Homo sapiens: one gene and its partner. The protein of the gene in region 2 purifies or fractionates together with the protein of the main gene of each other region. This does not show direct contact. Each region holds a gene or a part of one and is shown on either strand. Other genes may lie near its edges. The genes, in order: CD226 and SNX7.

Region 1 (3,835 bases), on a different chromosome or scaffold from region 2:
ATTACCTTTTGCCTCTGGACTTGAATATTTGTATAAGGCCTGATGTTGATCCAAGCACAGACAGTGAAACTCAGTATGATCTACTCATCTTCAGTTTGATGTCTATACTTCATTTCATATTTATTTAAAAAATAAATATGTGCTTCATTTTGGATCATGATTTATAAAGATGAGCCAAAGAGCAGCCTAGACGAGAGCAAGTCATATGGAATGGAGTCCAGCAACAGGAACCCTAGTGCAGTATCAGAAAGTCAGGGCAAAGAGACAGGTCAGAAACCACGATAACAAAAAACATATGTGTTAAAATGTTTATACATGGAGATCGACTTCTGCCTTTAGTGTCATCATGTTAAGGCATGGAAGATGTTGCTGCCATGCTTATAACAAGACAAAGCTGGAAAGTTGGAAAGCTGAAAATCAATGACTTTTCTTATTAGACCTATTAGAGAACCAAGGTCCTGAGCAAACTGCCACCCCAAAATCTGGAGATACAGATACATCCAGAGAGATACGCAACCAATAGCCATTTATCTGGAGTCAAAGCACTGGAGCCATAAACTAGTATGAGCCTTTATATGGTAAGTTGGGTGAATTGCTGGCATCTGTTTGTGGACTGGTGTGAGCAAGAAACCCATGGGGGCTGTGCTCTTGAGGCACTCCACACATTCAAGGGCTTTTCCAGTAGGAAACTCCAAGGTTCTCATTATGAGGATCCAAGAAAAATTTCCTCGTGGCTCTGGCAACAGATAGAGAGGGACATCCATTGAGAAATAAGCCATGAACCTTCTTGGTAACAAAGATGGAAAGGACTCTGCCAAGCACAATTCCCAAACCTCATCCCAGCCCCTGAAGTCTCCCTGTCCCACTTAAGGAAAGAGGGAAAATAACAGTCAACAGGGGGCAGGCCTTCAAAGAAATACATTGGGAATGCTGCAGCCAGGAAAGAGAGTTGAGGATGAGGAAGCAATACCACTGGAGAAGCTCTGTGAATGTCCCAGACACAGACCCACTAAAAGACTGAGATTTCACTGTAAGATTACAGAGCACTCTCCTTTCCCACAGCTTAGTACTACACCAACAGGGCTCCAGTATAGTAACAGTGAATTGCAGAGGAAAGAGCTGAAAGACAGAAAGTCTCTCTGAAGAGGAGCACTTAGGGAAGCCTGAACTCAAGAAGGGGAAAAACACATGAACAAACAAAACAAAGACACTAGAGGAATTTGAAGAAATTTAGCACCTATGGTTATAACAGACTTTAAACACAGTCTAATAGTTAGTCAGATTAAGATAAGTCTGCAAGCTAAAGACTTATTTACCTGTTCCTATTACATAACACACCAGATCTGGCTTGCAACAAAAAATTCAAAAAAAATGTCAAAGAACGTCAAAAGGCAAGAAAAGTCATGGTCTGAAGAGATAAAGCAATCATTGGAACCAGATAGAGACATGACACGTGTCAGAATTATCAGACATGGAACTTATCATTAATATGTTAAGAGCTCTCATGAAAAAAATAGACAACAGATGGATAATGTAAGAAGAAAGATGGAAACACTAAGAAGGAATAAAAAAGAAATGGTAGCAATAAAAAACATAGTAATAGAAAGGAAGGATATCTTTGATGCAATTATCAGTTGACTTGGAACCCCGAAGGAAGAATGAATGACTTTGAAGCTAGGCCAATAGAAACTTTTCAAACTAAAATTCAAAGAGTGGGAAAAACCCAGAATATTCAAGACTATGGAATAATTGAAGAAGAAGAAAGAATGGAGCAAAAGAATGTTAGAAGTAATAACGTCTGGGAACTTGCCAAAATTAGTGATAGACACCAACTCAGGTAGCTCAGATAACACTAAATAGAATAAATACCAAAAAAAAGAGGGGAAAAGGAGAAAAACCTAGGTTGATCAATGAAAGATATGCCACGAGAGAAAATTAAATCATGTAAAAACCCCAGTTAAAATCAGAGAACACAGAAAAAGGAGGATAAAAAAGAAAGAACGAGTGCAAGGATAGAAAAGTTACAAACATAGTAGATATTAATCCAACTATATCAATAATCACTTAAATTTGAATAATCTAAATGTACCAATTAGAAGTGGTGGGTTTAAACACACAAAAAAGATGAATGTTAGAGGTGACAGATATCACGATTACCCAATATGATCATTACATATTGTATACAGGTATCAAAACATCACATGTACCCCCCAAATATATACAACTCCTATATATCTACAACATTTTTAAGTAAGAAAAGTGGGGAAATTACAAATAGACGCAACTATACATTGTCTATAAGAAAGGCACATTAAATATAAATATTTAGATAATTTAAAATTAAAAGGATAAAGATGTGAGATGCTAATGTTAATTTTTTAAAAAACTGAAAGTTATGTTAATATCAGAAAAAGCAGACAGAACAAGAAAGATTATCAAGAATAAAAGGGACATTACATGTGGTAAAGGGGTCAATTCTCCAAGAAAACCTAACGATTCTGAAAGTATATGTACTAACAAGAGTATCAAGATACATGAGACAAAAACTAACAAAACTGCAAGGAGAAATAGAAAAATCCACTATTTTACTTGCAGTCTTTAACGAGACTTGATCACTTGATCTGTCAGTATGTGATAGATCAAGAAGAGGGAAAATCAGAAAGGATATAGATAATCTGAACGGTGGTATCAATCAGTTTAATCTAATGGACATTTGTAGAATATTACACTCAACAGCAGAATGAACATTCTTCTTAAGATCACATGAAACATTCTACAAGATAGACCATATTCTGGGCCATAAAATACACCTGAAAAATTTAAAAGAATAGAAATTATACAAAGAATGTTTTTAAAACATGATGAAATTAAGTTAGAAATCTGTAAGAGATATAAAGTAGAAAAATCCCAAAATATATAGAGATTAAACAACACATTGTAAATAATTCATGGCTCAAAGAAGAAATATCAAAAGAAATTTTAAAATATTTTGGACTAAATGAAAATAAAAATAGAGCTTACCAAAACTTGTGGAACAAAGTGAAATTTATAGCATTAAGTGCCACTATTGGAAAAGAAAACAACATATAAAATCAATAATCTAGGCTTCCACCTTAAGAAACTAAGGAGGCCGGGCGCGGTGGCTCACTCCTGTAATCCCAGCACGTTGGGAGGCCGAGGCGGGCGGATCACGAGGTCAGGAGATCGAGACCACCCTGGCTAACACGGTGAAACCCCGTCTCTACTAAAAATACAAAAAAATTAGCTGGGCATGGTGGTGGGCGCCTGAAGTCCCAGCTACTCGGGAGGCTGAGGCAGGAGAATGGCGTGAACCTGGAAGACGCAGCTTGCGGTGAGCCGAGGTCGCACCACTGCACTCCAGCCTGGGCGACAGAGCGAGACTCCGTCTCAAAAAAAGATAGCTATTCATTAGACATTGAAAGAATTATAAAATAGACATACAAAATTACAGAAAGGTTAGAAGAGTAATCTCTATCTCTAGAAGCTACTGAGCCATTACATTTCTTTGTACATTTTTTATGTGAGCTAAAATCAAAATTTGCTTCTGAGGACCATTATACGATAAAAATAAAGTGTGGGATAAATCAGCTCAACTGAAGCCACATCCAAAGCTGTTACTCAGAAAACTTAGTATCACTGAGAGTATATTGGAGAGCTCAAAGTCTTACTCAGGCAGCTGATCAAAGAATAATGGTCTTAGTCACTGTAAGTACTTTTGGATACCTGGCATAAAGGATGTAATGAATACATGATTGAATAAGGATATATCTTAAGAATGCATTTTCATAAAAACATAAAATCAGTTGAGATTATG
Region 2 (2,975 bases):
TGTGTAAGACAGCAAGCATGACCAAACTCCTCAAATTTCAGTCCTGAGAAATATCTATTTCTGAAAATCAGCAAAAATTAAATAATCAACACATTTAGCTTTTTTATATGGTTATAAAATTAATAGAAAAAATCTGTATGATCAGTATTACTAGAATGTAAGCTCTGAAAGTATCTTTTTCATCACTACAGAACATAAGCACCTACAACTGTGCCTTGCATGGAGTAGACAATAAATGAATGGGAAAATAAACTGGATAAACACTGTATATCTTAACAAATAAAAGCTAGGTATGAATTGTAAAGAATATGCACAAATTTTACAAAGCCCAAATATATCTACTAGTGGGAATATAATTATATAAGGATTTCTAACTAATAACTCAAATAACAATTTAAATCTTGGAAACTTTTTAATTGTGGAAAACAATTACTTAACTTTTAACAAATTAATTTTTGAACAGTTATCAATTTTAATAATGTCAATTTTTAGATATTACTTTGAGTTCCTAATATTAAACTGAATAGTATTTCAGAGGAAATGATAATGAAATAAAAATGAATACGCAGTATACTTGTTAACACATGCTGAACTCATTTTAGAATGTTTAAGAGGCTTGAGCTACTAGGAGGAAAAGAATACACTGCAGCCAACCACTTCATACTAAACTTTTTATTAAAACAGTCCTTACAACATATTTAAAATGGCATGTTCCACAGTCAAATATTTAAGAAAAAAAATCTATATGCAATTATTGGCACACAAATTTAAGAACATAATTAAAACCAAGCCAGATATCTCTCTGTATTTATATATCTATATACATATAGATATATATCCATACAGATAGATATATCTTCAAATTCATGTCAGTGACCTGGAATACCTGAGATTTCAAGTTGTTGGTTTTCCAGATGGGTACAAAACATTTTTCATCCACTTTATAAGGACACGGCAGATCCAGAAAGAATAACTTTGGTTAATAAATGCTGTCTCCCAAAGATCAAACAGAAGTCCTCAATGGGATTAAGGTTTATCTTCAGAGGCTTCTTCCAAGTGAAGGTTGGTCTGTGATGTAAGGAATGACTCCCACGTAGCAAGGCACTGAATAATGGAAACACACCATGAGGCAATCAACAATAGTTTACTTTCAGTGTTAAAGGATTAATAAATTCTAACACATCTGTTCCTACTGCAATCTGCTCTATTCTTCTCTCCCATCAGCTTGTCAGAATCCTTGTCATTTTCTACATATTTTAATTCTTAATGAGGGATGCTACTGCTAAGTAAGGGGAAAACATATTAAAGGTTAAAAAGATTAGCAAGGATTAGTTTGCTGAAATAATCTACTATTACCCCATATTAAGAGAAAAATAAGAGCTTCACGTTATAGAGGCAAAGATGGACCCAGCTGGAGCTGAGGAGGAGTGATGATACAAACATACTTCAGTTCGATTTGAATCCCATTACGTCAATTGTGAGTTTGAGAAAGTTGATTAATCTTTATTGGAGTTTCTTCAGCTATAACTTAGGTTAATAATAGTACTTACCACTAGCACAACTGTGAGAATTAAATGTATATAATCTGTATAAGTCTCTATGCAGAATGCCTAGCATAAAGTGAATGCTCCAAAAGTTAGCAACTGTTATGATGGTCTGTTGGGACTGGGTGGAAAGACTTAGTTATTAATGTGCCACAGGAAATGAAACAGGATTGTAAGGGTCTGAAGGCGCTGGGAACACATAAACATAAATGTGGCCTATTTGATTTTGCCTGGGGATGATCCTCCTAATAGACTAGTCTCAAGTATCTGTATGAAGTTTATCTACAGCATAATTTTAATAGTCTGTACACATTTAGGATTCTTGTAAATCATAACTACTCTAATATATATTCAGCCTGAGCTATAATGAATTTGGAAAGAAATTATGTTTTTTTTTTTCAAATGTGGATAGACTGCCATAGACATGTATGTTTCTACATAAACACTCCAAAGCTGGACTGATTAACACTGGTCCACCTGGCTCAACTACCTCCATGTCACTTCTTCTGCCTCTAATGCTTTCACAGCTTTAAAGTGTCTATATCGGACAACCAGCACTAATAACAGACTAGAGATTTCTCAAACACTGTAAAAACTCAAATGTTTAAAGCTCTCAAATTATAAGTGTGTTGCATTTCAAAAAGTATGTATGTATATACTTATGTGTGTGTGTGTGTGTGTATGCACAAACACATTTTTTTCAAACTGAAGATTTAGAATATGGGAAATACTATGTCAAATCTGATTTTCATAAAGATTACATACTGTGATTTAATTCTGAGATAGGCTCTAATAACTTAGGAAGCTAATAATAAAGCTAAAAGATTCGTATAATTACATGAGAACAGTAAAACACTGAAAGACCTAATTGTCAAATAAAAAGATACTGGGTAAAATTTACCCAATAAATTACTGGATTAAATAGTGGGTATTTATTTTGTCATATATTTTGAAGGCCAGGCTTGGGGTAATGTAGGCCTCATTAGAATAATCAAGTTTATCAAGACTTTAAGGGATACTTTTTGCTTTAAATAGCTTTAGAAGGTACTGAAAGCCAAGTACAATCCAAGAAGCACAGTCACTGTAATGAATTGATTCTGGGATTTGCTTTTATCCTCCAGTAAGTTACTAACTTTATGATATTGTAGCTCCTCAGATATATAATAATAATAGCCTCTCTCATAGGGATGGAGAAATAACAAAATAAAATAGGAAGAGGAGGGGAGGGGAGTAGAGGAGTCAGGGTCAGGTAGTTACTACAGGAGCCAACTAGTAAGAATGGCCTCCTCTTAGACGGTACAGGAGAAGAATTTAGATATCTTTAAGTGTATCCAAATGTCTATACTCATGAAAAGGCATAAAAGATGAATACTTCACATTTAGTATATTTTTCAAATTTTGGACTGTAATTTATAATTGTCCAAACTATGC

What was found.
Region 1: the proteins of SNX7 (region 2) and CD226 purify together in Homo sapiens (co-immunoprecipitation; one large-scale study listed by IntAct). This does not show direct contact.

Annotation. Positions count from the first base shown.
Region 1 is NC_000018.10:69,853,759-69,857,593, forward strand, and holds part of CD226 (CD226 antigen isoform a precursor), read right to left. Parts: 3' UTR 1-3,835.
Region 2 is NC_000001.11:98,758,183-98,761,157, reverse strand, and holds the end of SNX7 (sorting nexin-7), read right to left. Parts: intron 1,105-2,975; coding exon 1,027-1,104; 3' UTR 658-1,026; downstream 1-657. UniProt on the Homo sapiens protein: Involved in the regulation of endocytosis and in several stages of intracellular trafficking. Together with SNX4, involved in autophagosome assembly by regulating trafficking and recycling of phospholipid scramblase ATG9A.